Homo sapiens: one gene and its partners. The protein of the gene in region 3 purifies or fractionates together with the protein of the main gene of each other region. This does not show direct contact. Each region holds a gene or a part of one and is shown on either strand. Other genes may lie near its edges. The genes, in order: ATP11C, LAMA4, BCAM and TMEM11.

The links.
Region 1: the proteins of BCAM (region 3) and ATP11C purify together in Homo sapiens (affinity purification with mass spectrometry; 2 studies listed by BioGRID and IntAct, with this or other methods). This does not show direct contact.
Region 2: the proteins of BCAM (region 3) and LAMA4 purify together in Homo sapiens (affinity purification with mass spectrometry; 2 studies listed by BioGRID and IntAct, with this or other methods). This does not show direct contact.
Region 4: the proteins of BCAM (region 3) and TMEM11 purify together in Homo sapiens (affinity purification with mass spectrometry; 2 studies listed by BioGRID and IntAct, with this or other methods). This does not show direct contact.

What each region holds. Positions count from the first base shown.
Region 1 is NC_000023.11:139,782,229-139,791,026, reverse strand, and holds part of ATP11C (phospholipid-transporting ATPase IG), read left to right. Parts: intron 1-1,538; coding exon 1,539-1,700; intron 1,701-2,683; coding exon 2,684-2,835; intron 2,836-3,782; coding exon 3,783-3,854; intron 3,855-5,727; coding exon 5,728-5,801; intron 5,802-7,759; coding exon 7,760-7,863; intron 7,864-8,298; coding exon 8,299-8,480; intron 8,481-8,798. UniProt on the Homo sapiens protein: Catalytic component of a P4-ATPase flippase complex which catalyzes the hydrolysis of ATP coupled to the transport of aminophospholipids, phosphatidylserines (PS) and phosphatidylethanolamines (PE), from the outer to the inner leaflet of the plasma membrane.
Region 2 is NC_000006.12:112,131,500-112,140,297, reverse strand, and holds part of LAMA4 (laminin subunit alpha-4 isoform 1 precursor), read left to right. Parts: intron 1-412; coding exon 413-546; intron 547-1,006; coding exon 1,007-1,178; intron 1,179-4,043; coding exon 4,044-4,175; intron 4,176-5,688; coding exon 5,689-5,831; intron 5,832-6,810; coding exon 6,811-6,949; intron 6,950-7,407; coding exon 7,408-7,545; intron 7,546-8,798. UniProt on the Homo sapiens protein: Binding to cells via a high affinity receptor, laminin is thought to mediate the attachment, migration and organization of cells into tissues during embryonic development by interacting with other extracellular matrix components.
Region 3 is NC_000019.10:44,818,122-44,822,738, reverse strand, and holds the end of BCAM (basal cell adhesion molecule isoform 1 precursor), read right to left. Parts: intron 4,218-4,617; coding exon 4,102-4,217; intron 3,999-4,101; coding exon 3,857-3,998; intron 3,684-3,856; coding exon 3,547-3,683; intron 3,394-3,546; coding exon 3,249-3,393; intron 3,158-3,248; coding exon 3,013-3,157; coding exon of another isoform or gene 3,009-3,012; exon of another isoform or gene 2,035-3,008; coding exon 1,917-2,034; intron 1,824-1,916; coding exon 1,818-1,823; 3' UTR 1,318-1,817; downstream 1-1,317. UniProt on the Homo sapiens protein: Transmembrane glycoprotein that functions as both a receptor and an adhesion molecule playing a crucial role in cell adhesion, motility, migration and invasion.
Region 4 is NC_000017.11:21,196,340-21,204,845, forward strand, and holds the end of TMEM11 (transmembrane protein 11, mitochondrial), read right to left. Parts: intron 2,502-8,506; coding exon 1,985-2,501; 3' UTR 1,615-1,984; downstream 1-1,614. UniProt on the Homo sapiens protein: Plays a role in mitochondrial morphogenesis.

The DNA of each region.
Region 1 (8,798 bases), on a different chromosome or scaffold from region 3:
TCCTATCAGCCCATAATTTTAACTATTTAAGCATAAATTGCCAAAACGAGGATAAAATTGTGGGTTTCCAAAAGCCAGATGTTAAAAATAGAAGAGATAAAAACCGAGATAAAATAGAAATGCTCAAAATGATTTATCTTAGTGGCAAATTTATTTCTTGGCTTATATTTTCCATTATTTATGAAAATATACTTGTGTTATACTTTATCTGCTTTTTTTCTAAATTTGGAAACTTGAGTATTTTCAAAATATGTATAGTAAAAAGAAAGAAATTTCAGTTATGGTTTTGATCACTACTGACCTATACTGTATCTTCCAATTAGGTAACTGTTAATGTTGTTATTAATTCTTATGTATATTATATGATGTGGTGCATTTTATTTTAATTCAGTATTTTTATAGAAAATTTTACTTTTAAAAGGGGAAAAAAACCTTCATCAGTTTCTGTTTTATTTTGTTACATCCCATTTAATTTATTGGGAAAAAATTTTTAATGGGTAATGTACGTACTAGCCCACAAAGTGTAAGAGTGTGTGTGTGTGTGTGTGTGTGTGTGTGTGTGAGTGAGAGAGAGAGAGAGAAATAAGTGGTCAGTATAGTCTTACTTCCCACTTGAAAAATTGACTTATGTAACTTCTTTACATCAAACAGGTTAACTGGCTGGGCATGGTGGCTCATGCCTATAATCCCAACACTTTGGGAGGCCAAGGCTTGAGCCCAGGAGTATGGGACCAGCCTGGGCAACATAGTGAGATGCTGTCTCTACAAAAATTACAGAATAATTAGCCTGGTGTGGTGGTGCGTGCCTGTGGTCCCAGCTACTTGGGAGGCTGAGGTGGGAGGATTGCTTGAGCCAAGAAGTTTGAGGTTATAGTGAGCTATAATGGCTACTGCATTCCAGCCTGAGTGACAGAGTGAGACCCTATCTTAAAAAAGGTTAACTTAAATGAGAAGCGTTCTTAGTTTGATAAAATAGTCACTTTTTTTTTTTTTTCCTGAGACAGAGTCTCACTCTATCACCCAGGTTGGAGTATAGTGATGTGATCTCAGCTCACTGCAACCTTTGTCTCCTGGATTCAAGCAATTCTTGTGCCTCAGCCTCCCAAGTAGCTGGGATTTCAGGTGTGTGCCACCACACCCAGCTAATTTTTGTATTTCTAGTAGAGACGGGGTTTCACCATGTTGGCCAGGCTGGTCTTGAACTCCTGAGCTCAAGCAATCCTCCTGCCTCAGCCTCCCAAAGTGCTGGGACTACAGGCATAAGCCACCGTGCCTGGCCAATAGTCACATTTTTTTCTATTCATCTTTTACATTTGAGTAGATCTACCTTAGACATGTGATAGCATTTTGGTGTCTTTAAAAATACTCATTTATTCCTCATTTCTTTGGTAATATTGTCTCTGTAATTCCCTGACATTTGACAAGAAGTCTTAGAAGGGGTGATTTCCTATGGATATGAAAATAGCTTTGCGTTACAGCAAACTAAAAATTAGTCACACTGAAGAAACTAACAATATATGTTTGTGTCCTTGTTTTAGGTGGATTATGTATTTACAGATAAGACTGGAACACTCACTGAAAACAGCATGGAATTCATTGAATGCTGCATAGATGGCCACAAATATAAAGGTGTAACTCAAGAGGTTGATGGATTATCTCAAACTGATGGAACTTTAACATATTTTGACAAAGTAGATAAGGTGCATTTGCATTATTGTTTTATATAAGAAACCAATCTGTGTATGCATGTTAACATTCCATAGTAGAAAATAATTTTTAGGTGGACACATGACATAGACTTTTGTGTTTTTGTTTTTTTTTTTTGAGATGGAGTCTCACTCTGTTGCCCAGGCTGGAGTACGGTGGCATGATCTCAGCTCACTGCAACCTCCGCTTCCCAGGTTCAAGCGATTCTCCTGCCTCAGCCTCCCGAGTAGCTGGGATTACAGGCGCCTGCCACCATGCCTGGCTAATTTTTTTGTATTTTTAGTAGAAACGGAGTTTCACCATGTTGGTCAGGCTGGTCTCAAACTCCTGACCTCAGGTAATCCACCACCCTCCGTCCCCCAAAGTGCTGGGATTACAGGCATGAGCCACTGTGCCCAGTGACTTTAGAATAACTATTGTTGGATTCACCTTTCTTGTTTTACTGACACTTCTGAAATTTGTAAATGAGTAGAATTTACAAGTAAAGAGAATTGTGGGAAATGACATTTGGGTAAAAGCTTGCTTGTCTGTATGATCATAATTTTTTGTGCTTTGTCTTTTAAAATGTAAGCTCCTCCAAGAATGATGTCTGTTCAAATGATTAAAGTCTCAGGAGTGTCTAGGCATTAAATTAACCAGAGTCTCCCTACACTTGAGCTATTGCTAGATTGTGAATTAGATACTGAATGAAGTTTTTTAGGCCATGAAGAAGTCACTGCTTTGGCTTAGGTGGTGCCACAATAACCTTAATGAGTTAACACAGCCTATAGGGTATGCTAGCTGAGAACCAGGAACTCTTATTAGGTACTAGGAGAATATATAGCAGATTTGAGTGTTAAGAATTTATACGTATCTGCTACTAAGTTTGTTAGAAGTTACAACATTCTCTCACATTAATATATTTTCTCCGTTCACTGCCTAGTTACCGGGTGATCAAATTAAAAATAATAATCATTATTTTGTTGCTGTTCCACAGAATCGAGAAGAGCTGTTTCTACGTGCCTTGTGTTTATGTCATACTGTAGAAATCAAAACAAACGATGCTGTTGATGGAGCTACAGAATCAGCTGAATTAACCTATATCTCCTCTTCACCAGATGAAATAGCTTTGGTGAAAGGAGCTAAAAGGTAAAGTATACTTTCTTATACTTCTCCTAAGAAAGTGAAATCACAGGAGGACAGAAGTTATTTGTTTTTTTCCGTTTGCTTCAGTGACCTTAGCACATACATCTCCTATTATTTAATAAAAAACACAACTGCTTTAGCCAAAAATTTGTGGAAAATTCCCACACCTAACCAGTTAAGACTAAAAAGAAAATAGTTACAGGTAGGTATTACTTGCCTTACTATTTATGCATGCCAGCCAGAAGTCTGAATGTTCATACTATGTTTTGCAAATAACATAACAGTGGCCACTTTTTGTACAACACATGTTATTTCTGAGGTGCTCCCAGCAATTTTGACATCATTTGAGAACCGAAAGTCCAGTTTTACCCATGAGGTTCAAGATAATTAAGTGGCTCAAAGGTCACCCAGTGTGTTAGCCGTAGAATCAGAAACCCAAATTGTCTCTCCCTTGGTTACAATAATTGTGGCTGGGCATTGACTTTCTCTGTTATCAACTTATCCAGGAAAAGAAAGTACAGTTATATGTTGAGATCATATGAAAGAGAAGAAAAGCATAAACAAGCATGAGTTACCCCATTGAAAGTAATCATTCTAGACCAGGTGCGGTGGCTCACGCCTGTAATCCCAGCACTTTGGGAGGCCAAGGCGGGTGGATCACCTGAGGTCAGGAGTTCAAGACCAGCCTGGCCAACATGGTGAAACTCTGTCTCTACTAAAAATACAAAAATCAGCCGGGTGTGGTGACACACACCTGTAATCTCAGCTACTCAGGAGGTTGAGGCAGGAGAATCGCTTGAAACTGGGAGGTGAAGGTTGCAGTGAGCCGAGATCGCGCCACTGCACTCCAGCCTGGGCAACAGAGCGAGACTCTGTCTCAAAAAAAATAATAATAAAAAAATTAATCATTCTTTAGAGATACACAAGGTCTTTTTTATTGTTTTTGATAGGTACGGGTTCACATTTTTAGGAAATCGAAATGGATATATGAGAGTAGAGAACCAAAGAAAAGAAATAGAAGAGTAAGTAGCTCTGTGTTTGATGTTTGTCATTTCTTAACCCCATAGTCAAATTTAAGTGGATTCAGGCAGGGCAGCAAAGGAAATGATGCCACTAAAAATACAGGACCCTGCTCTCCCAGTTCAGAGTTTTATGTAAATATAGTTGGGGTAGAAGCCATGTTACATAGAATTGCAGAAACTGGAGTTTGAGGTGGAAATTCCAATCTGGTTCACATCTGGGTCCAGTAGCCAGAATGAGAGTTTGCCTGGAATGTTTCTCAAATTTAGATGCCATTTCAGGTCTCTAACACATGCTACAGGAAAAATCAGTGAATATATGTGAAACCTTCTGCTATCTAGTGTCCAAGCAATCACTCTGGGATTGCAAGCCCAGGCAATAAAGGCAGCTTTGCTGTAAACCAGAAGCCTTGTTTGGTTCGGAATGTTCAGGTGTGAGCCTCGGGGCAAGTACTCTGATGCTCCAGTGTCTTCACATTTCCTCTTTTGCCACAAAGACCCTAATGAACAAAGCCACCTTATCTTAATGGTGGATTTTAATTAGGCTCTGTGATTAATTTGAATTTCCTCATCTGAACTTGAAATATAATTATGTTATCTGACTTTCATTCTGGCCCCTAGGATCTCCTGAGACCCATCTCAGAAACCTGTAATATGTTTACAGGTACTTGGGTAATGCACCCTTTTGGAGAGAGATTCATAGAAGCCCAGAGGAAGGTTCTTGGTCTGACTGACAGGGACCCAGGGTCATTGTCAGAGTTTAGATTCTAGCCCATCTGCAACAGTGCCCACATCTGGCCAACAGCAAACCAGATGCCATGTTAGATGTCTTATACATATACTCCCGCAAGACTAATGACCCCCTCACTCCCACCAAAACAAGCTATGTAGTAAATACTTTTTTTAAAAAATACTAGTTGTTTATTTTCAAGGAAATATTTCCTCTCACTTTTTCTAATAACCAACTCTTATTTTAACTCTTCTGTGTCTCTCCATTGATTAGTTCAGCCATCCACACACACATTTGACCAGTCTCATCATGTCATTCCACTGTTTAAACCCTTTTATTGGCTTTCTTTTGCTCTTACAATACAATCCCAAATTCCAGAAATGGCTCACAAAGATGTGTTTCCAGCCCCTGCTTACCTTTCTTGCTTTATCTCTTACTATTCCCCTATTGATGAGTTTTTTGGGCATTGGTGAACTACTTAAAGTCTTCCATGGGCCATGTGCTCTCATGCTGCCGTGCTCATTCCCTCTACTCAGAATGCCATGGCCCCCTTTCTTCATCATATTACCCTTGCAGAACCCAGCTCAGGCATGTCCTCTTCCAGGAAACCTCCTTTCAGATGACTTCCTTCTGTGTTCTTATATCTTCCCTGTAAGTGCCTTTATTACAGTATTTGAGAAACTAGAAGGGTAGTTATCTCATTATGCTCTGTCTCCCTTATCATATGGTGACCCGCATAAGGGAAGGGACTCAGGCAGATTCACCTCTATTCCCCAGCACCTAGCACTGTGCCTGGCACTCCATACATAAATGCTGCTAAAATAATTGGCAGAGTGGGACTGTTTCTAGACCCCTCCAAATATGGCTTGGTGGGACAGCTCTTTATCTTCCATTTTTATGTGGTCATTCTCCTTACCATTTTAAGTAATATACTGAGGGGCTATAAATACCCCTTAACTAACACTGGTGTCCTCTGACAGCATGTTCTATGTTCAGAGAAATTCTGAGACAAAGGAAAGTACCAGTTGTGCACACAACCAGTGCTATCTGTTGATTTAAGATGTTTAAATATCTTAACATATTTCTGTTGTGCTTTATTTTTCTCAGTATATTCTAGGTTTTTTACTTTGCTCATTTCTCTTAAAGATATGAACTTCTTCACACCTTAAACTTTGATGCTGTCCGGCGACGTATGAGTGTAATTGTGAAGACTCAAGAAGGTACATGTCTGAAAAGCTTGAATTTTTCTCTTTGTTGATTTGTAGGCTTATTGGTTGATTCACTCTTTCAGGAAAGAGAATCATTTCATGTAGTAGTGTAGGATTAGTGAAAGTCATGCAAAGCAGTAGCTTTTGCATATGCTTTCATGTATTTTTTTAAGCACAGATGTTCTGTTTACCAAATTGTTAGTGACAGAACCCTTGTTATGACAGGGTGTGCCTTTTCTTGGTAGCAGAACCATATCCCTCTGCCTTGGGTGTTCGAACAGGAACTGAAAGGATGACTTTTATATGGTTCAGGGTACTGACCAGTCTACCAGTAATGTTTACATGCAGCCACCCAGCATAGTTGGATGGTTTGGGATTACTAGCAGCAGAATCCTTGAGTATAGGGAGTTGCTTGTTATCCCTCACTGACCTTCCTGGTTCCCCTACTGCTTGACACTCCCTGGAAACAGGTGAGGTAGAGAGGACTAAGGGCCTGGTTTCTGGGAAATGGCATTGCAGTTTCACTCCAGAGCTCAGGTTCTTTGTTGAGCAGAGTAAAGCTTGCCCTTTGCAGGGGAACTGGTACTGTAATCCTGGGCTCCCTCATGTCTTTGGAGGCACCATGGTGGTTTGCCTTCTGCTCAGATTCTGCAAGACCCATGGGCGAGCAATCCTGCTTTATTCGAAGGCTCTCAGATACGTGTGTGTGTGGTGTGCCGAGGTGGTTTGTTTTCTAAAAATTTTTGATTTATTTCCCAGTAATTTACGTTTTACTATTAAATTTTCTAAATTCCTTAATGTCAGAATGGGAGGATACAGACAGATCCTTGGGGGAACATATCCCACTTAATTCATACTTTGTGGTGTGATTGCAAAGTCATGAAATTGATTTTAATAAGTGACCATGGAGTTTGTTTTGTGAATTTTAAAATACACTTTGGATGTGTAAGAATAAATGAAAAAAAAAACACAACATTTCAAATACTTGCTATTCTTATGTGTGCATGTCCACATGTTCTACAGCAAATGGTGAAATGTCTGTGGAACTGGTCTACAAAGGTCATTGACCTCAGAGCTACACTTTTTAATTTGTTGACCTCGGTTGTTTCCCTTATAAGGATAAAGTGTCTGTCTTAGTGCACAACTGTGAATATTTCCTGGGTGTGTGAAGTGATCTAAAGCTGCAATTATACCAGCATTCTACAAAGCTATTCTCATCAGTAAAAACTATCAAGCCATTGTTTTAGAAGCTAGTTAATATAGTTTATTCAAAATTATTTCAGCTTGTTTGAGCTTGAGCTTTCTTCTTGACATCTGTAGATGCCATATGTGTGCTCTAGGCCATGGCTTCACTGCATTTTTTTTTTTTTAAGACACGGTATTACTCTGTCATCTAGGCTGGAGTGGCAAGATTATAGCTCACTGCAGCCTTGACATCCTGGGCTCAAGCAATCCTTCCACCTCAGCATCCAGCGTAGTTGGGTCTATAGGTGTGTACCACCATGCCTGGCTAATTTTTTAATTTTTAGTAGAGTCAGGGTCTCCCTGTGTTGCCCAGGCTGGTCTTGAACTCCTGAGCTTAAGTGATCCTCCCACTTCAGCCTCCCACAATGCTGGGATTACAGGCATGAGCCACTGCACCTGGCATACATTTTCAGAAGAAATTCAGATGCAGCTCCTTGACACAAGCCCAGCCCTCCATGAATTGGTGGGAGGAAGTATATTTTAACAGAGGTGCCTATTGTAAACTCTGGCTTATTAATTGTGTTCATAATGACCTTGAAGAGGTGGTACATGCCTTTCTGACAGACTGAAGGCCAAGATTTCTCATTCCATTTAGGTGAGTATTGCAAGGTGTGCTCAGAATATACAACACTTGGGTGAGAGAGACCGCTTTAAAAGTTACTCTTACTAAAACCACAATACCAGCCTTAAAATTCTAAGTCAAGTACTATGGTTCTTTATTTTAGGAGACATACTTCTCTTTTGTAAAGGAGCAGACTCGGCAGTTTTTCCCAGAGTGCAAAATCATGAAATTGAGTTAACTAAAGTCCATGTGGAACGTAATGCAATGGTGAGCCTATACTCCTTCCCCCACCAATAAGTAAGCAGAGAAATGTTGAAAATGACTATGTTTATTGGATTTCTGTTTAAATGACAGTTTAAATACATTTTAGCTTATTTTTGTGGTCTATGTTTTGTATTTGGGGATTTGATAATATTACTTTTTTTTATCTTAATATAAAACATTTTCCTGGAGCAAGTTTCAGGTCAGAATTTGCAGCCTTAAAAGACTTTTCAACAACCTTTGTTAAAAGAACTGTTACTTCCTTTTTCTGAACCTAATTGAATGTTACCTTTTCAGTTGTAATTTCTTCATTTTTTCAGACTAAATATGTGTCAGAATTTCTCTTGTCCATATGGCTAAAGCAAGAGTATTTACAGAGTGTGTTTTTTTTTTTTTCCAACTATTATTAGAATAACTACAGATCTCCTACTTTACTCCTAGGATGGGTATCGGACACTCTGTGTAGCCTTCAAAGAAATTGCTCCAGATGATTATGAAAGAATTAACAGACAGCTCATAGAGGCAAAAATGGCCTTACAAGACAGAGAAGAAAAAATGGAAAAAGTTTTCGATGATATTGAGACAAACATGAATTTAATTGGAGCCACTGCAGTTGAAGACAAGTAACTAGAAAATGATACTCTTATTATTTTAATGACCAGTGTTTTGGGTGTGATCTGCCCCAGATTAGTAATTTAATCTCGAAGTTTGAAATCTTTAGTTTTATTGTTTAAGTGGACTTAAAGATTTATTTATTATAGCAAGTATGAAAAATTACACCAGATTTTGAGCTGTTAGTAGGAATGATTTTTTTTTAATTTTTTAATTAATTTTTTTTTTTTTGAGACAGAGTCTCGCTCTGTCGCCCAGGCTGGAGTGCAGTGGCGCGGTCTTGGCTCACTGCCAGCTCCACCTCCCAGGTTCACGCCGTTCTCCTGCCC
Region 2 (8,798 bases), on a different chromosome or scaffold from region 3:
GTCGAAGAAGATGGGAAGTTGATCTAGGGTTCCAATTTCAGGACTATTATTACTAGTTATGGGCACATAATTGGAATTTATCTGAGAATTATTTTCCCTCTCATTATATGAGAACAAGAATACCTACCTAACAAAGCTGGCGCAAGGACTGATTTTTGTCATGAATTCACTGTACAGCCTATGACCAGCACATAATCTATGCTCAGTAAATCCCACTTTCTCTGCTAAGATTTGCACAACTGACAAGTTACGCCATATCTAAATGATTTGGCATAAACACACTCGGGTCTAGAAAGATATTTCCACAAAGGGGTAGGTCTCCTTGACCTACTATTAGTTGCATTGTCTGTTCTGTGATGTCTGAGTAAAATATGACCATGAGACAAGTGGTTTTACTTTTTCTATTGCATAGCTCCCTACCAGCTTAAACCTGCCTGGCTTTGTTGGCTGCCTGGAACTGGCCACTTTGAATAATGATGTGATCAGCTTGTACAACTTTAAGCACATCTATAATATGGACCCCTCCACATCAGTGCCATGTGCCCGGTAAGAGACAGTTAAGAGTACTAAAGACTTGGATATTCATGCAAGAGCAGCAGATAGAACAAGTATGAGTCAATATTCAGGTTCTCAAACTTTTCTTTGGGGAAGCCAGTTTTGAAACTACATAAGTCATACCTGCAAAAAACTCTTCACCTGTTCTCTATCATAGATGAGCATGCCCAAGTATGAAGTGTTAAACAACTTGTTTGCAGCCTTGATTAAGGATTCCAGAGACTAGGGTGTCCCTGGAGACTTCAGTTGTCTTAGCACACAGGATACAGAAGAAAACAATCCATTTAACATACCTACAAATACCTCTTTATCTCTTCCTTGCAGACAACAGGACTTCATTTAAATGTTGTAAGGTCCACAGAAGATGTTAGAAGAATGGGTTAAAAGGGCTTCACTTGAAAAGCATAACAGAAACTGTAGTGTTCAAATGACCGTTGTGTTTCCATTTCAGAGATAAGCTGGCCTTCACTCAGAGTCGGGCTGCCAGTTACTTCTTCGATGGCTCCGGTTATGCCGTGGTGAGAGACATCACAAGGAGAGGGAAATTTGGTCAGGTGACTCGCTTTGACATAGAAGTTCGAACACCAGCTGACAACGGCCTTATTCTCCTGATGGTCAATGGAGTGAGTAAAAATACAAGTCCTACTACTTCTCCTTTATTTCCTTTACTTTCTGCTACTCATGTTTCCAGGAACCTTCCCAGGTCTAGTGTGTCATGCCATCAAACTGAAATTCTAGTTTAGAAAGTCAAATTGGATTTTCTTCTTCAGGAAAGTAATGACAGCAATAAATAAAAGCAACCCTGAGATGCATTTCCCCACAGTACATTTTTGGATATAAATAAACTAAGAGAACTTTGAGGAAATTAGAACCAAGATCTAGATGAGCAGGGTGTCTGCAGAAATTTTGCACTGGGCTCCTAACTTTTCCAAACCATATGCCCTAATCAATTTTAAAGCAAAGCTTGCATGCTTTGTATATATGTATGTGTGTATGTAAGTATATATGTATGTACACACACACACATATATATCTTTGTTTATAAATGATACATGTGTACTATAAACAGATATAAATATAGTATGAAACAGTCAAAGCTTGTAATAAAGGACAAATTATATAAAGATAAAATAAAAGATTATATATTTAAAATGAAGATTAAATTGACTTATTTATTAATGATACAGAAATGTTTTTCTCACTAAAATTATTTTTAATAGTACTTTATCTACTGTACAGCTCAAAGAAAATAGTTTTAGTGAGAAAATGTAATTAAGTATGCTAAATATTTTCAAAAATCCTTAAACTCTTTGTGACACAGTGATTCAAAAGTCTTGTCCTAAGTCCAGTTTATTTCAACAGTAATTTTATTGGTGGTTGTAACTAGACAAGACACCTCACAAAAATAAAAAATGAAAGAACCATATCATTAGCTGTGCCTACTAACTCAAATAGTTTTCAATCACATTCACCAAGTGGCAAAGGTTGTCTTTGAGATTTGATTGGTGTATTTCCTTTTTTCTAATATTAGTTCTTGTAAGCTAACCAGGTATCATTTTGTAAACTTTAATAAAAGGGTTCAAAGCTATTGAAAATCTTTATTTGAAATATTTTTCTAAAGGTTAGAAATTTCTTCCCTCAAATGTTTTAATAGAGCTGATAGGAGAGTTTTTGTAGGATTGCATTTACATTGTTCCCATCAACAAAAGCAACAATAGAAAAATTCCCAAACATATTTTTTAAAAACCATCTCTCCACAGTATAACCGTCCTCAAAAAAAAGGAGAAAAAGTTACTTTCTCATCCATTATTATGATAATACCCTTACATTGATGTGACAGTATGTTTCTTTTTTGAAATAACTAGTAGGATTCATACTACTGTCAGACATTTGTCATCACGAATAAAGTTCAACAAATTTAGAATAATTCATGTTACAAAGAAAAATGTGTAACCCTCTATAAACTTAACAGCATTTTCAGAAATTTGTAGGAAGTAGCCAGCAAATATCTGTGTGTCTCAAAATGTTTTCACATCACTCTACATCTCAATACAAAATGAGTGTAAATATTCTATTATTTCGGTTATATCAGCCTTAAATCCATATAACTAGCCACACGTAAACTGCAATAAATTGCAATAGGCTAGAAGCAAAGAAATGGATGAGGAGCTACCTTCAACTCTTCAAGTGTGGAACCCCTCTTGGGAAGCCACACATATTATGTGAATTTTGTGAAAGTCTGACAAAAGGATAAAATGAAGGCCCAGAGTCAATAATTCATGTGTTAAATATTAAAAGTTAGTTTCTTTCTCTATTTTAGATTTTTTAGTGAGTATAAATGGATGTTGAAATATTTTCTTCTCTATTTCAGGTTTTTTTAAATTAGTATAAATAGAAGTTGAAATATTTTCTTCCTAAACTCCAGTAGGCTGCTTTCCACACTCCCAGGAATGTACAAACTCCACTCAGGAGATCACTTCCTATAGAATAGGGACCTTGCCACAATGCTTTATTTTTCAAATCCATTGACTTCTTGTATCTATGAACTATCTTCTGAAACAAGCAAAACTCCAGTAAATTATTTGAGTGTTACAAAATTTCTTTGATTCTTAAACATCATGTGTTCCAAGTGCATAATAATTCTATATTTATTTACATAAATCCAGTGTTTCAAAACAATACAGCAATGGCCTTCTTTTTTTAAATCCATATTTGCTGATAATATGGAAGAATTCTTTTCAGTATACCTTGAAATTATTTTTTAATTTTACTAATTTTCACCTAAAATAAATGCAGACACATCTGTTGGCCTGTTATAATTTTTAAAAGTTTCCTAAAGACAAGGCAGTTGAATAAACATGGTATACTATACTCTATTTTCAAGATTTTCTTAAAAGGCAATAATGTAGACTTAAAACTTCATCCATTAGTTCAGAAAGTAGAATGAAAACAGAAGAATTTTTACACTGTGTATAAATATTAACTTTTATGTATTAATAAGAGAAATAGCTGCTGATATGGAAGTAGTTGTCACTTTTTTTTTTTTTTTTTGAGACAGAGTCTCGTTCTGTAGCCCAGGCTGGAGTGCAGTGTCACGATCTCGGCTCACTGTAACTTCCACCTCCCGGGTTCAAGCGATTCTCTTGCCTCAGCCCCCTGAGTAGCTGGGATTACAGGTGCCTACCACCACGCCTGGCTAGTTTTTGTATTTTTAGTAGAGATAAGGTTTTGCCATGTTGGCCAGGCTGGTCTCAAACTCCTGGCCTCAAGTGATCCACCTGCCTCGGCCTCCCAGAGTGCTGGGATTACAGGTGTGAGCCACCACTCCCAGACACTGTCACTTTTATTTCATAAGAATTTCATGAGACTTTCTTAGTCTTCAAATAGTTCCAGTAATAAAGAATACAGTCTTATTTCTCAAATTCAGCTAAATCTGACTCTACTCGCATAACAGATGTTCCTATCTTACAATTCCTTTCTCTCCTCAGAGTATGTTTTTCAGACTGGAAATGCGCAATGGTTACCTACATGTGTTCTATGATTTTGGATTCAGCGGTGGCCCTGTGCATCTTGAAGATACGTTAAAGAAAGCTCAAATTAATGATGCAAAATACCATGAGGTACAAATCATTGTAGTTTGGTTGGTTTTGTTTTTGTTCTTTATACTTAGATCTGTTGATCTAATCAGGCAGTCAAATGAGACAGGCAGGATGGTAAATAAACTGAGAACTTTCATATCTAAAGAGCAACTGAAGGACCCTCATCTTCTCAACCCTAGGAAAACATTTACTTTAAAACATTGGATGTATTTTTCCTGTTGATGTTCCAATTTAAAAGTCACTGAAAGATTCCTTTTAATTGCTTAATTAACCAGAAGGCTTCTATTAATCTTAAATATCTCAATTGGTATTCCTACAGGATACTTCTATACATTTGTTGAATGAGCCAGAGTGTAGATACACAGCCTTTTTTTGCTTATCCTTTGAGCCCCACCAAATTTAACAAGAATACATATAAGTAAATACAGAATTTCCTTTTAAACCACTTATCCAGAATTTAGAAAATACTAGCACAGTTTTCCTTATAAAGAGAACTCACAAAGAATCCCCTTTAGTTTTGAAACAGATGTGCAGACTACTGAAAATATACTTCATCCATTTTCATTAACTATTTTAAATATACAACTTAATAAAGTGTATACAAGGCATAATATCTTTTAAGTTGAACCAAAATGCGAAGGGTAGGAGACTGTATTTCCCTTTTCAGTTCAAAGTCCATAGCCTCATGAGAATGGTTTACAATAAAAGAATATTTTAACTATTTCTCTGACTAGCATTTTTGCAGATTCATTAGAACTGCTCACTGTGTCACCAAAAAAATTACACCTGGTAACATGCAATCTAGATTCCAGAAGGCACCTGCTTGGGAATACAATAGGGGTCACCAGGGGTTAGGGGATAGGGAAATAAGAAATTGCTGTTCAATGTGTATACAGTTTCAGTTGTGCTAGGTGAGTAAGTTCTCGAAATCTGCTGTACAGCATGGAGCCTATAGTTAAAACTAATTTAAAATTTATTTAGGATAGATCTCATGTTAAGTGTGCGTAACACACATGCTCACACACACACACACACCACAAAGGGACACAAGGAAATGCTGGGAAATGTGTGATATGTCTCTTACCTTGATTGTAAGATGATATGAGTGTTTGCATATGTCCAAGCTCATCAAATTGTATACATAAAATATGTGTAGTTCTTTGTATGTCAACTAGACTTGAATAAAGTTGTTTTTTTAAAAAAAAAGAGAATGGTGGCACCTGTTTATAGTTCTTTCCTGAATCCTCTCAGAAGGAGCAGGAGGAAACAATAGGTCTAATCGCAAAATTTTTCTTGGGCTGGCTCCTCTTCATACAGACCTCCTTTCCCAGAAAGTGTGAACTGCTGCTTGTAGAAGCAAGAGTTTTCAAGTCTGTGAGAAAAGAAAATCTATCTATTCCCCATTTTGTGAACAAACAAGCACAAAGGCATGGAAGAACAGCTAGTATACCAGGAGAATTAAAATATATAGAAGTCATCAAAGAACTGAATATTAAATAGTTAATCAAGGCTTACTATATATTATCTCTCCCAGATCTCAATCATTTACCACAATGATAAGAAAATGATCTTGGTAGTTGACAGAAGGCATGTCAAGAGCATGGATAATGAAAAGATGAAAATACCTTTTACAGATATATACATTGGAGGAGCTCCTCCAGAAATCTTACAATCCAGGTAAGGCTTTTTGTTAAGTAGCTGTTTGTTCCTAGCAATGTACTGGGCTGGCAACATCCAGGAGAGGTCTAGTAACAGTGTACGCACCCTTACTTGCTACTTTTACACACAGGGACAGGCACAGGTACACACATTCATGTACCTTCAGGCCCTCTGCAGTCAGTCCTCAGGACCTCCTGAAATTAGCATCGCATAGATGTAATCACAGATTTCTTCAATTATTGTATTACTCTTAGAACATGATCTAATGCAGTATTTCTCATCAATAATAGGAACGGTGGAACATGTGTATTGTGTGAAGACAAAACAGCATTTGTCCATTTACTTTTGCTTTAGCCTTAAACCCATTTTGAACTCTCCAATAGCATCTGAGCTACACAAATTTTTAAGGTTATCCAAAGGGTTGTGTATTATGTATAATGAAACATTAAGACACTCCCCTAAACTTTGTTGATTACAGATGTGTTGGAAATAATGCCAAAATGGATTCATTAATGACGTGGATTAATAAAAGTCTGAAGACCTGTGTTCAAATCCTAACATCACTTGTGACATAAGAGAATAATTTATTTCTTAGTTTCATTTCTTAGTTTCATTACGTTAAACCCTGTGAAATTACTAAGAATTGATTATATTTCTGTGTAACATGTTAGTTCCTATGATTCAACCTAATAATCGTCTGCTAAAGGGAAATCATAGCATCTCCATCTATTTCACTGAATTGTTATAAAGATAAAATGAGATAATGTAAGTTAGAGCATTTTGAAAACTGTAAGGAAGAAATTGGCTTGACGTAGAACAAAACTCTTCTATAGGCAAAGATTAGACATTGCTGTGTGCCTATCAAAGAAAGCATGAGAATATGAATGATTATAAAGCCATTACAAATGACTATAAATAAATGCAAATTCCATAGCCTACATATGCAGGGTAACATCATCATCATGGCTGTATCAGTGAGGCTGACTTTCTTTTCCAGGGCCCTCAGAGCACACCTTCCCCTAGATATCAACTTCAGAGGATGCATGAAGGGCTTCCAGTTCCAAAAGAAGGACTTCAATTTACTGGAGCAGACAGAAACCCTGGGAGTTGGTTATGGATGCCCAGAAGACTCACTTGTAAGAACCACTCAGTCAAAAGCTTTTTAATAGACACAATACTTATCACTCTCAAAAGCTGGAAAAGTTCTTTTCAGCTTCTCTCTGATCCTAGGTACACCTTGGGTTCCTTTCTGCCACCACCAGAAAGAAGAACCATTAAGCTAGAAGGGCTCTTGTGCATGGGGTTCCTCTGTGACTTGTTCGTTTGCTTCAGTTTTCCATGGGTGGGGCATCTAACACCCAGAGAGGGTGTGCTAGCATCATTGTTCACTCAGGTTGGAGTCAGTGGAGAAGATGAAACCCCATCTCTCAGAGGAGCTCCTAGTGTATGCCTGAATTCCAACATAGACCAGAAGTGGGAAAATAAACTATTTACGTAGAAATTAACAGGCAAGGCCTTCCGTATGTGAAACATTGATAGTTTTAAGCATTTGATAATTCTCAAAAACACTATCTCCACTTGTTCTGGCACACAGATATCTCGCAGAGCATATTTCAATGGACAGAGCTTCATTGCTTCAATTCAGAAAATATCTTTCTTTGATGGCTTTGAAGGAGGTTTTAATTTCCGAACATTACAACCAAATGGGTTACTATTCTATTATGCTTCAGGGGTAAGTGTTTGTTTTTCTCTGAGGAAACTTCTTTGTGATAATTGTTTTGCCTATTAAAAATAATTTGTAATGCATGTTAGAAGTGATTTTCTATTCAGATTAATTTTGACTCACACGTAGACACACAGAATGCCTCATTTCAAACACTTTATAAAATATTCTATGTATTGTATATCAGAAGTTCCTAACCTGGAATTCATAGACCCACCCCCAAGGGTTCATGGATAGAATTCAGGGGGGTCTGTGGACTTAATGCGAAAAGATTACATCTTTATTTTCTCTCACTGAAATTGATCATTTTCTTTGATTATGACTCTAGGCAACACACCACAGTAGTATTACCAGTACCTGTGACTTTGTCATTAATAGAAATCACAGATTTTTTTGTTTCACATTACAATTGTCACAGAAATCTCAGAATGTCATTTTTGCTCATTGCTACTTCTAATGTTATTAGGTCTGCTATGGAATCTTATTCTTTAATGCCTTAATAAAAAAGTTATAATAATATCACAGATTATTTTAATATTTTGAAAACTGTATTTCAGTATGATTGGTTTCCTTTGTATTATTATATGTTTTGTTTTATACATTTAAAAACATTATTTTGTGAAGCGGTCGCTATCTGTTACCAAAATGCCAAAGGTGTTTCTGGCACAAAAATTCTCAAGAGTCCCTGTTTGTATGCAATGAACAAACACATTTGTGATTTAATTTATAAAAGAGTAAAAAGAACATACATACTTCTCTTAGATTTGCTACAGAGCATTTGAGCTCAGCTTATAAAGATACGTTATTTCAAGAATAAACTAAGGTCTGTAGAGGATTGGTGACTGTAAGATCCAACTGATGGGTCTCTGAAAAGGTCATCATCAATATATACACTGATGTGCCAGGTCATCACATAACTTCTGAAAGCAGCTTTCACTTTTCATATATATTACCTGCATCTGACACATTTATATCCAATTTAATTGGAATCAGTAGAATTTGTGAGAATTTACCCAAAGCATTTTGTAGAACTTCTGACCCAAACCTGCCTCAGACTACCCTGGTTAGTTAAATAACACTTTTTGCCCATAAAAAGTAGTCTATTTTGAGGGCAGACTTAAGAAGTTGGTGCCCATATAAGGAAAGAGAAGCAAGATTAACCCTTGCCAAATATTTTAAGACAAGCAATAAGCAAATTCAGATAAGAAGAGCTAACTTGCTTTTAAAAATGTCTCTTCTGCCTCTAGATGAAAAAGTGAAAG
Region 3 (4,617 bases):
TCAAGAGATCCTCCTGCCTCAGCCTCCCAAAGTGCTGGGATTATAGGCATGAGCCACTGGACCTGGCCCACTACTCTTTTTGTCTGTCTCCCCAGATCTATTTTTGTCTCTTACTCCAGGGCTCTCTCGGAGCTTCCCAACCCATCCCTCTTGCCTCCCCCTAAATCTTTCCATCCCTTTCTCACGTCCCTCTTTCTTGGCCTTGTAATGTCTGTGTGTCCTCTCTGCCCCAGGCCCCCTTTTCTCTGGATTCCTCCAAGCTCCCCGCTTTCCCCAGGGACTCCTCCCCAGAGGAGGTGGCTCCATCCCTAATTCTATTGACTCTACAGCTAAGAGGGAGCTTTTCCTCGCCCAGTTTCAATTCCCTCTGGGGCTCTGGCAAGACAGACTGGGAACTTTTACTTAAGGGGACAGCACCCATCTCCAGGCAGACGCTGGTCCTCGGGGGCCAAGCCCAGCACCCTCGGGACCTGGCATCTTTCCGTCCACCCCCGGCCAGCTAAGTCGCCCTCTGCGTGCTCACTCGCTCTCATGCTGTCATTTCTTTTTCTTTTCTTTTCACGGAGTGTCTCGCTCTGTCGCCCAGGCTGGAGTGCAGTGGTGCGATATCGGCTCACTGCAACCTCTGCCTCCTGGGTTCAAGATTTTCTCCTCCTCAGTTTCCCACGTAGCTGGGATTACAGGCTCGCGCCACCATGCCTGGCTAATTTTTTGTATTTTTAGTAGAGATGGGGTTTCACCATGTTGGCCAGGCTGGTCTCAAACTCCTGACCTAAAGTGATCCCCCTGCCTTGGTCTCCCAAAGTGCTGGGATTACAGGTTTGAGCCACTGAGCTTGGCCTCTTTTTGTTTTCTTCTTTTTTTTTAGAGATGAAGTCTCGCTTTGTCACCCAGGCTGGAGTGCAATGGCGTGATCATAGCTCACTGTAACCTCGTATTCCTGGGCTCAAGGAATCCTCCCACCTTAGCCTCCTGAATAGCTGGGACTATAGGCACACCTGGCTAATTTCTGTATTATTAGTATTATTATTTGTAGCGATGGGGTCTCCATATGTTGCCCAGGCTGGTCTTGAACTCCTGGCCTGAAGCCACCCTCCAGTGTCAGCCTCTTAAAGTGCTGGGATTACGGGCGTGAGCCACCACCACTGGGATTACAAGAATGAACCACGGCGCCCAGCCCTGTCTCATTTCTTTCTCCATGACATCAGGCGTCTTCTGAGGTCTTGCAAGGGGGCGGATGGGGGGGCAGCTGAGAGCAGGGAATCACCTGCATCGCCCTTCCCCTCCCTACTCCCAGAGGAAGCTCTGGCCACAGGATGGTGTTGATGTGACAAACAGCATTTATTCCAGACTCCAGTGTCCACAGATGATGGGGTGGGGCGGAGGTAGGGCGGGGGCAGGAGTGGGACCAGGGGCGGGGTGAGGGGGGGGAATCCAGTGTCAGACTCTGCAGCAAGACGTCAGGTGGGGGGACCAGCAGGGGAGGCGGGAGGTAAAAATAGCTCCGGCCAGCCGACCCTCGGAGCCTTGTCCCAGGCTGGGCCTTGGGCTTGGGTCCAGGAGCTATTCTGGGGCCTGGGAGAGTCACATTCCCTGGAGGAAGGCCCCCTCCCACCCACCCACCCTCCCTCTCCTTCCCTCCCGGAGGCAGGCAGCCACTGTGGGTCCCTGCCTTGCCGGCAGAGGAAGGAAGGGAGGGCTGGGCAGGGAGAGGGAAGAGGGAAGAGGGAAGGCGGGGGCGGGCATGGCGTGAGCAGGGCTGGTTCTCTGATGCCTGCAGCTCCAGGTCCAGGGACAGCCTCTAGGAGGTTCTTGGCTCAGCACTGGGGAGCGGATGGAGAGGTCAGCCTGTGCCCACGGGCGTGCTCCACTGCCCAGCAGGTCCCTCTCACCAGGGGGCCCAGGCCCTCACCCACCTCGTCTCCGAAGCCCCCGCTGCCACCCCTGGCTCCTCCGGAGGCACCTCCCATGAGAAGGCCGGTCTGCTCTGGTTGCTCCGACCCCGAGTGGCTCAGCCCTGGCTCCCCTGGCGGCCTGGGGGGAGGAGGCAGCGGGCGGAGGCGTCGTGTTGGAGGTGCACACGGCAGGGGGAGGAACTGAGGATGGGGGTGGGTGGGACTAGGATGCGGCTGGGGATGGAGGTGAGGATGGGGGTGTGCTGGGTGGGGATGGCATAGGGATGGGGTAGGGGCTGGTAATGGCACTGGGGTTAGGGTTGGGCATGGGGATGCAGATGCTATTGGGGTTGGAGGTGGGAATGTAGCTGGAGTTGGCTTTGGGATCGGTCTGGGATGGTTACGGATTGGAGGTGAGGACGGCCATGTGGTTGGGGCTGGAGACAAGGTTAGATGAGGAGGAGCTTGGGGAGGCTTAGGGGTTGGATTTGGAGTCAGGAATGGGGACAAGATTGGGGATGGGGACATGGGTGAAGTTGGCTTCGGGACGGTGGAGGACTAGGGTTGGGAAATGGCTAGGTGAGGGCTGGATGGTGAGAGATAGGCTTGGAGGATAAATTGGAGTTAAGGGTGAGCTCAGGGGGATGATGGGTGTTGGGGCTGGAGGTTGGGGGAGGATGGGGATGTGGCCAGGGCTGGAGAGGAGCTTAGTTGAGGATGGTTTGAAGGGGGTTATGGATTGGAGTTGAGGGGAGATTGGGGGCAGGGTTGGGATTGGAGACAGGCATGGAGTTGGGGATGAGGCTGAGCTAGGGGCAGGAGAGGTGATTAGGGAAGGGGATGGTGTTGAGTTTGGCTTGGGGATGGGTTTGGGGATGGCCCTGGGTTGGGTTTGGGGCTGCAGTTGGGGATGAGGATGAGTTGGGGATGGCTGTGGATTAGTCTGGGGCTGGGTTTGGGGCTGTAGTTGGGGATGAGGATGGGTTGGGGATGGAGGTGGATGTGGTGGGATGTGGGGTGGAGGATAAGATGTGGTTGAGGTTATGGGTTGAGCTTGGGGTTGAGGGTGGGGATGGGGTTAAGCTATGGTGGTCATTGCAGATAGCAGGCCACTCACGGAGCCCCCTTCTCCCGCCGCTGGCGGCAGCAGGGGCCCCCTTTGCGTCTCACGCAGTAGAAGACAGCAACGACGAGGAGCAGGAGGCCCACGCTGACGGCCACGGCCATGACGGCCACTCCAGCCTGGGAGGTCTGGGGGCTCACTGCAGGGACAGGATGGAGAGAGGCGTGGGTCAGGCAGTGGGCTCTGTCTGCCCCACACCCGGCTCCTCTGCCACCACCTCAGTCACTCACCGGTGCCGAAGTGGAAGACATGGCGCTTGTTCCCGTGGGGGTTGGAGGCTTCACAGGAGATGCCATCGCGGCTCAGGGCGCTGGTCACTTTCAGGGTCAGAGAGCTGCTCACCCAACCCTGCCGTCCGGGGATTGGCTCTGCGGGCTATGGAGGCTCCGATCAGGCCCCGGCTGGTGGGGTCAAGGGGTGGGGTCAAGGGCAGAGGTGAACGACGTCCAGTCTCCCAGGAAGTGGAAAGGAGGGTGTGATACTTGGATGAGTGAGAGGGGGCTCAGGGTGGAGAGGAAGGTCCCTTACGCTGCCCCCCAATTGGCTCCAGCTGAGTTTGGGGTCTGGATGGCCGCGGGCAGAGCAGATGAGTGTGACTTCGTCTCCTTCCCTCCAGCTGCCATCTGCCTTGGGCTCTATTTCCGCTGTCTTTAGCTCTGGCGAGCCTGTGGGTGGTGGGGATGGGAAGAAAGTGAAGGGAGAGGAGAGAGAGAGAGAAGAGAGGCATCGAGCAGAAGATGGAGTCCCCAGCCAGGGACTCAGGAACTCGTCCTGTTTGTCCAGGTCCCACACCCCACACTGTCCCCATCCAAGCCCACCCCCTCCCTGCCCCCTGAACCTTGGACCAGCAGCGTGAAGTTCTGGGTGCGGCTGAGGACCGGGACTGTGGGCAGGGAGGCCTCACATACGTAGGTGCCATTGGAATCGAAGGTGATAGAACTGAGCGACAGCATGGGGCCATCGCCCAGGGGAGTGGAGTCCTGGGAAGGGCAGAGGAGGAGGAGGACGCTGTGAGAGGGCGAGGAGTGAGGGGAGAGAGGAGGGTGCGAGTGCAGGGCCCGAGGGGGCTCCTCTCCCTCTCACCTTGGTCCAGCGTAGGGCAGGGGTGGGCAGGCCGTGCACGGAGCAGTTCACGACTGCACTGCTGTTTAGAGGTAAGGAAAGCACCTTCCCCTCGCTGAGCTCCAGGGGGTCCAGATCTGCAGTGGGGGACAGTCTGTCACTCGTCCCAGACCGCCACCCACTCAATTAGGGGCTCTCCAGGGGCGGTCGGGGGTGCAAACATGAATGGACAGTTGGAAGCAGAGAACAGCAAGTAATCCTCCTGGTTTACCCCATCTCCATGAAATCTCCATTCTCCCATCCAGGCTCTCCAACCAAAAATCTAGCAGTCTAACCCCAACATTGACATGCCCAAGTCAATTACTTTTCTTCAGAGCTGACATCTGAGCCCAAGGTTAATGAATAACCTTAGGTGTGGAAGGTGTCCCTTCTGTGACTTTAGCACACAAACCTTTTGCTCAAACCCCAACCTGTGGGGTAACCTCCCTGTTACCCCCAAACATCTTTTCTGCAAAGTTTTGTTTTTGAATAGAGACA
Region 4 (8,506 bases), on a different chromosome or scaffold from region 3:
TTCAACTCACACTGCTGTCGAGATGAGGCATGTTTTTACGGGATCAGTTGTGTGGCTAAGGCAGTTCCCTCTTTACCATTATTCCAGGTGCCCAGAGACTGCCACGTAAACAGTGGTGCACACCCAACACCGTCATGCCCCCAGCACTCAACTGAGTGATAAGTTATTTCTAAATCTCTTGGAATTAAATCAAAGTTTCTTAAACTTTTTGTGGGCCGTGGGTCCCTTTTAAAATCCTTAAGAGGTGTGAATCTCCCCTACAAAAAATGGCCCAATCACCCCTCGTGAATCCTTCCCATGCACCCTTTCATTACTCTGTGACATCAGGTCTTCCTGATGGGGACTTTAAAACTAGGTGAGAAACCACTTTGGCTGTCTCTTAAATATTGGCCTGGCCAGGCACGGCAGCTCACGCCTGTAATCCCAACACTTTGGGAGGCCGAACCGGGCAGATCACTTGAGGCCAGGAGTTAGAGACCAGCCTGGCCAGCAAGGCGAAATCCCATCTATACTAAAAATACAAAAAGTATCCAGGTATGGTAGCACACAGCTATAGTCCCAGCTACTCGGGGCTGAGGCAGGAGAATCACTTGTACTCGGGAGGTGGAGGTTGCAGTGAGCTGAGATCACATCACTGCACTCCGTCCTGGGTGACAGCAAGACTCTGTCTCAAAAACAAAACAAAACAAAACAAAAGACTGGCCTTCAGAAGGAGGTGCCATGTGGCTCTTCAGGGATGAATGGGGCTTTAGGAAGGCAGAAGTGAAGACAGGCACCCCAGCCTTTTTGTGGAAGAGAGAATTTCCCATTTACCCAAAGCCTTAGAGCAAGCTTGTCCAATCACCAATCAGCAGCCCATGGGCCTCATGCAGCCCACGATGGCTTTGAATGTGGCCCAACACAAATTTGTAAACTTTCTTGAAACATTATTTTTTTGTGATTTTTTTTTTTTTTTAGCTCATCAGCTGTCGTTAGTGTATTTTATGTGTGGTCCAAGACAATTCTTTTTCCAATGTGGCACAGGGAAGTCAAGATTGGCCACCCCTGCCTTAGAGGAAATGTGGCAGGTGACACAGTCTACCTTCTGGTGTGAGGGAGAAGCACCGGCTTGGCTCCTGTGGAACAGCGAGCACTGAGGCCAGGGGGTGCTTCCAAGATTGCTCCGAGGGCTCTTCTGTCAGCCTAGGGCAATGGGTTAATAAACTCATGGTCCACAGTAGGAAGAGTTTTGGTGCTTCAAAGAAAACACAGGTGTTCAGATCTCTGAAGAGCGATCCTGGAGCCCAGAGTTCCCCACGTGAACTCAAGTGGACACCCAAAGGCCTCCAAGCCTCGTCACCTTATCCTACCATGTTCCTGAACAGCATGGTGGCAGTGATGGCCTTCGGAATGATGAGGCCAAGGTGAGCCAGGAGACTGCTCCTGGGCGGGGTTTGGCCCCAGGACTACCTTGGATCTAGGCTTGTCGTCGCTGTAAGTGGTAACACTGGGCCGCAGCTAGGAGCAGGGCAGGGTGGCTACCATGGCACCTGCTCCTTCCATGTGCAAGCCGCCACCCAGAGCAGATGTGCAGCAGCAGCTGCGGGCAGTCATGGAAAGAGAGAACAGCGGGAGTTGAAATTCTCATAATTTTAATGATCAATAGCTTCTGGTGGGCTCTGGATGGTACAGTTAAACAATAGACTTAAAGACCTCCCCCAAAGCACGTCCACACCCCCTCGGCAGCGTCTGCCTCCATCAGCATTCCACTGCCCAGTCGGACTTCCACAGCCTCAGACCCCCCTCTTGGGTTATGGAAATCCACATCTTAGTGTAATGAGCTGAAAAACCCTGGGTACACCCGTGATCTGTTATTTTTTAAAAATAACAAATACTAAGCCAAACACCTGCCCAGGCTCTGCTGCCTCACAGAGTGTGGCGATCTGAATACTCTGTTGTCTCTTGTGGGCCGGGTGGTTTTGCTTCGCTCCCTGTTCTACTGAAATCATACGGCATAGAGTTCGTAAATCTTCTTTACACAGTACACCAGGGCGGCCAGTGCTATCGTGTTGTGCAGTCTCTTTCTGTGCAGGTCGTCCTTCCGGACCAGCACCACCGGGGTGGAGGAGGTGAGTGTGTGCAGAGGCAGGCGCGACAGTTTATAGGCGTCGTACTCCACTTGGTACTTGCAGCAAGGGTCAAACTGCCAGGAGATCCCATAGAGGGTGCAGCAGGCCAGGCTCAGCACACCAGCGGGCAGGGAAATGTAGTGGGAATAATCTAAGGGCAGCGCCAACGGGGTGAAGAGGCAGGCGGTGCCCGCCAGCACGGCCGTCTTGTGCAGGCAGTTGCCCACGGTGATCCAGCGGGCTGTCTCGTCGCCAATGCGAGTGGGCTCAATCACAATGTACTTGTACTGGGCTTCCAGGGCCTGCTCCAGCTCGTACTCAAACTGGTCTTGGGCATTCTCCCCATTGTAGATCTCATGCACAATGTAGCAGTCTGTGGCCGACAAGCTCACCCTTTTGATGGAGGGGGCAGGAAAGGGAGAGAGAGAGAGAGACAGGATGATTAGGCTGAGGAGCACTTAACTGTGTTTCAGCGCTGGGGGAGGTCTGAGCCTGCACTGCGGAGAGCACATCTCACTTGGGTCCTCATCTCCTTTAAATCCCAACACAAGATAATCAGTAAAAAGGATTTTTCCTGAAAATAGTGAAATAAAGCTGGGTGTGGTGGCTCACACCTGTAATCCTAGCACTTTGGGAGGCCGGGGGGGCGGATCATGAGGTCAGGAGTTAGAGACCAGCCTGGCCAACATGGTGAAACCCTGTCTCTACTAAAGATACAAAAAAAAATTAGCCAGGTGTGGTGGCGCATGCCTATAATCCCTGTAATCTACTCGGGAGGCTGAGGCAGGAGAATCACTTGAACCTGGGAGGCGGAGCTTGCAGTGAGCCGAGATCGTGCCATTGCACTCCAGCCTGGGTGACAGGGCGAGACTCAGTCTCAGAAAAAAAAAAAAAAAAAAGATATAAAAAGGCAGGAAAAGCAGTGCCTCGACGTTTAACATGACAAACACAGGCCTGGTGGTTAGCCTAAGGCTGTGGACCAACTGATCTGAGTCAGCAAAGGAGCCTAAAGGGGAAAGAACGATTCGGCACAGAATCACAGGAGCACACACGGCAGCAGAGGGCCAACAGCCTGAAAGCCATTCTTAGTTAATCAGGGCAACTGCAAGAGGATTCTTCACTGGAAACCACAGACCTCAGGACAGATAATGCTAAGCCCTTGCCCTCCGCACGTTTCCTAAGTAGTCATCCTGGGCCTGCAGAACAGAGGCAGAAAGGAAGAGCTTTGCCTTGGGCGAATGAAATCCAAACTCCTTTGGCTCTCCTGGAGGCCAGGCTGCACAAGCCCTGGGTGCCCTTCCTGGGCCGGCAGCAGCCCCCAGCTCCTCCCCGCTGCGGAGGGGAGAAGAGGAGACCCAGGACACTAGCCCACTGCATAGGAAAAGCGACCCTTTCCTTGAATTAGGAAAAGACAACGCTTCAAGAACAGTAGTGGGCTCCAAATTTAGTAAGCAGGAGGGTCAACTGAGGGGCTTCAAAACATCCAGCCCAGCAATGCCACCAATTCTGGCCCTGTAGGCCCAGGCCCCTGCACCACCGGCAAATGCCACTCATTTGCATAAGAAACACTGCCACGGAGACCACACAAGGGGCTTTCCCCCCCGGGACTGGGGATGCATGTCATGACCCCAACCAGCAGGAGAGTAATCCACCACACGGAACGCTCAGCTCTGCAGCAAGGCCAGACGGCAGCCCGGCTGCAGCCCCAGCAGTGACCGTGGGCCAAGCTGCATTTCAGGCAGTCTTGCTTTTCTTGGTTTCAGGCCTCTGCGGTACAAATTTCCCACCCAAAGCAGAATCTTCTTCACCTGTGGCGGGCAGGCCTGAAGACAGGGCTATCCATGCCTTGTCATCTTTCCTTGGCTGGTTTCAGCTGAGACAGATCTCTCTGAATCTCCGCACCGTCACCCCACATCCTAGTTTTCCGTTATCTGCTCATCTGCAAGAAGTCTTTATCTGGGCCTTGACGGGGACACTGCTAGACATAGCTCTTGAGGCTGGATCAAGTTTTCCAACTCATGGCTCCCAAGGCTGCACAGAGCCATGTTCTGTCACATGCCTCAGGGAAAAGCTGCCCCTTCCCTCAGCACACCCTGGTCCCCAGGATGGTCGGACCCATCTGACTAAAGGACACAAGGCTCCAGGGACCTGCTGGTCACTGCTCCCCTGCTGGAGTCCATGCCCTTCCAACTGGGAGGCTCTGGAACACTGTACCAGGCAACACAAGGGTCAATGTGGCCCATGTACCTGAAGCTCCGAATGTGCCTGACAGGAACTAGCTTCCTTTCATGGCTAACGAGAAGCACAGCCCTCAGTGTGCACAGACGCGAAGGTCCCGTCCGCCCAGCCTGTCCTGGCAGGCACACCTGGCTGCGGTGCAGAGGAGAGTCATGGGGAGCTGAGCCACCTGGCCATTGGCCGTAATATGGGAGTGACGAGTGAAGACATTCATAACAAGCCACCCCAGAACCTCAGCCCAGCATGAAGGTAACTCCCTCCAGCCTCCTTCAAAGATGGGAGCAATTCCAAGTGAAGGATGGTGGAAATCGGACTGTCGGGAAACTTCAAGGAAAAAGAACAGGCAATCGTAGTTCTTCCTACTACTGAGACTCCTCCCAGCTCAAAGCTTTCAGCAAACAAATAAGCAAACCTAACAGGCAGGGTTGCATTCTGGTTGGATAAACAACTAGTTAACGATCTCATGTGGCCACATTAAAGATGAAAGTCATTGGTAATGGGCTGACTGTGCCCCCAAGCATGGGGACCCTAACCCCGCCCCTGGGTGGGAACCACTTTCATAAAAGGCACTGGCTTGGACTTGGGCAAACGGAACTCTTTATCCTGAAAAAGTCACTGTAACTAAGCCAGGCTAAGGCAAAGCCTCCTAATTCAATCATAGGCCCTAATTAAACGGCATGCACTGGGGAGAAATCAGTGCCCTGAGGGTGGGACAAGAGCCTCCTAAACATGGGTTGCTGCCAAGCCACCTGTGACTGTGCCAGTGTCACGGCTGCCTCGCCAGGGATGAAATGATGAGCTGTTACTGTAAGACTGCACGAGCAGCTTATGAAATGGGGAAAGGAGGGTTTTCCTTCTAAAGTTCTCGGTGGAGTTTTTCCATTTGGTCTTAGAGGAGAGGTAAGGGAGAGGCCAGCTGTTACTTCCAGGTAGGATTCAACAGTTTTTATTTTTGAGACAGGTTCCTGCTCTGTCACCCAGGCAGGAGTGCAGTGGTGTGATCTCTGCTGATGGCAGCCTCGACCTCCCGGGTTCAAGAGATCCTCCCACCTCTGCCTCCCGAGTAGCTGGGACTACAGGTATGTGCCACCACGCCTGGCTGCCTGGCTAATTAAAAAAATTTTGTTGTACAGATGGGGTTATGCCATGTTGCCCAGGCTGGTCTCGAACTCCTGGGCTCAAGTGTTCCACCCGCCTTGGCCTCCCAAAGTCCTGGGATTAACAGGCATGAGCTACCGCATCCAGCCAGATGCAGCATTTTAGAAGCTACCTACAGCAAACAAGCACACCCAAAGCAGGGTCTTCACTGGCGCTGGAAAGCTGAAGGCCGAGCAGTGCCCCCACGTGCTCAGATGAGAAATGAGTGGCGGTGGCGCAATGGGCTGGCTGTGGCCCTGGGTGTGCGGGGAGGGGCGGGGCCTCCACTCTCAGGTGGGAGCACTCCTGGCCAAGAGAACTCCCTTCTGGTCTCAAGTCCATCAGGCAACAGGAGCAGAGAGGCCAGATAACAAGGTAGGGGTGGAGGACCAAATCGTGTCCCAATCTTGAGACGGAAATGGAGTTGCTTCCAAGTCAGCTGTGCATCCTACTGACTGTCAAAGCCAGGCCAGGGACACCTTGGGGCGGGCACCAGAGGCGGGCTTCCTCCCTCAGGAACACTCAAAGCAAAAGGGAGGTGTCAAGCTGGGGTTACACAATGTTCTCGCCAACACCCAAATCCACCCTAGTGCGGTACCTTTCTCTGCCCAGCAGGCCAGCGCCATCCTGAATGTAGTGAAAACCACTGTTGGTCCCACAGAGGAAATTCCAGTGGAAACCCCGGTCCTGGAACCGACTGCCCCATCTGGAAACACAGCAGTGGGCAGATCCCACCCCCTCACCCCCTCCGGCCCCCCTGCAAGCCCAGCTGGCACCCACATCCACCCAGACCCCTCTGCAGGCTCCATCGCTTGCTGGGACGGATGGGTGGGTGCGTCCACGAGTCCCAACCAGCCTGGAAGCAGCGAGAAGCCAAGGCCCTCCAGGCTCCCTCCCACCTCACTGCTGTTGCCAGGTGTGGCCCGCCCCCCAGCACAGGGAGTGAGGAGACTGGGCATCCTCTGCCCTCGGCTGTGGGCAGTCCTGTGAATGACACAGCCATAAGCAAGCACGTGGACATGGGGGCACTCGCCAGCACACATCCTGAGATGGTGGCGTGGGTCTGCCCCCACCTGCCTGTCAAACCATGGCCCCGGCCTCCTGCAGCCTCGGCGTCTTCATATGGGCTGGGCACTGTTGCTGCCCACTGTCTAAGACACCTATCCACAGCAGAAACACAAAGGACATAAGCCACACTGCCTTCAAACAAAGGCAGGGTCCTGCACAACGGCGCTGAGGCCAGAGGCTCACCAATTCTGCTTTTAAAGCCAGTTAGGCAAAGGGAATCTCGGTTTCCACTGGGAAAGGACAACACGTGAAGTCTAGGGAAGTGGATTTCTAGGATTCTATAAGGCAACAGACCCTATATGGAGACGGTAAGGTTCAAACCAAAACACACACAGACGCACCCAAAGCCGCAGGATCCCTCCGTTGGAGCTCACCCGGCCACGACCAGGCAGTCAGCACTCCAACTTCCTGGTACACTGGTGGGAGTGGGGTGCTGTCAGTGCAGACACAGGTTTTTTAGCTGCCACTGCTGGGCCCTTGGGTTCAGGTCTGCACTGCTGACAGGGACTGCTGCACTTCTCTTACTTCAGAAATTCGTGGCCATGACCAGGTGCGGTGGCTCACGCCTGTAATCCCAGCACTTTGGGAGGCAAAGGTGTGCAGATCACTTGATGTCAGGAGTTCGAGACCAGCCTGGCCAACAAGGTGAAACCGTCTTTACCAAAAATTAGCCAGGCGCGGTGCTGCACACCTGTAATTACAGCTACTCAGCAGGCTGAGGCACAAGAATCACTTGAACCTGGGAGGCAGAGGTTGCAGTGAGCCAAGATTGTGCCACTGCACTCCAGCCTGAATGACAGAAAGAAAAAAAAGAAAAAAAAAGAAAAAAGAAACTGCCAAGTACTCCCAGGAGACAGCCACGTCCAGCCAGCTCCTGACCACCCAGCAGCCACCCGTATATGGCTTGCTTCTGCTTGTGGGTCAAACAAAACCTAATGAAGGAAAGAACCCAGTCAGAAGGTTATCTCAAACCACTGCAGAGCATCACCAGCTGCCCCCTAACTGGTAAGGCCATGGGCTTTAGGAACTGGGTGATCTGAACCCTGGTGCATGGGAGATCTTTTTTTTTCCTTTTTTTTTTTTTTTTTAAATTATATGGACTTTTTTTTTTTTTTTTAAGTAAGAGCTAGTTGGAATCTTTTGAGCCCTGGGCTTCCTAAGGGACTGTATTTTTGCTTTTCATTGCAGGTGTGAAATGACCAGTAAGAGAGCAATTAATAGAGTCTATGTTTAAAAAAAAAAAAAAAAAGAAAGAAAAAGTGGCCAGGTGCAGTGGCTCATGCCTGTAATCCCAGCACTTTGGGAGGCCAAGGCAGGCGGATCACCTGAGATCAGGAGTTCGAGACCAGCCTGGCTAACACGGTGAAACCCTGTCTCTGCTACAAATACAAAAATTAGCTGGGTTTGGTGGCACGTGCCTGTAATCCCAGCTACTTGGGAGCCTGAGGCAGAAGAATTGCTTGAACGCAGGAGGCGGAGGTTGCAGTGAGCTGAGATCATGCCATTGCACTCCAGCGTGGGCAACAAGTAAAACTCCGTCTCAATAAAAAAAAAAAAAAAAAAAAAAAAGAGAAAAAGGTAGCAGCAGTAACAGCAAAGTCTCCAACTGAAAGCAAGTTCAGGGGAAAAGGCAGGGTTCAGAAGAGTGTTTACAGTATGCTATACGTAGTGTATTTTTAAAAGTCTCTATTTGCTTTTATATGCACAGAACACTTCTGAAAGGATACACAAAGACCTGATTTTTATGACTGGTCACTAGGGAGGGAACTGAGGGGCTCAGGAAAGAAAAGGAAGGGAGGCTCTTTCTAGTAAATGACTTTTGATCCTTTTGAATCTGGCATGATCTCTGGTACTTAAAGATCACTGTCGGAAGTGGGTCTTAACATATGGAAGAAGAAAAGTAAAAGGATCAGTGTCATGATCCTAAACACATCATGCCAGCACTGAGGAAGCTT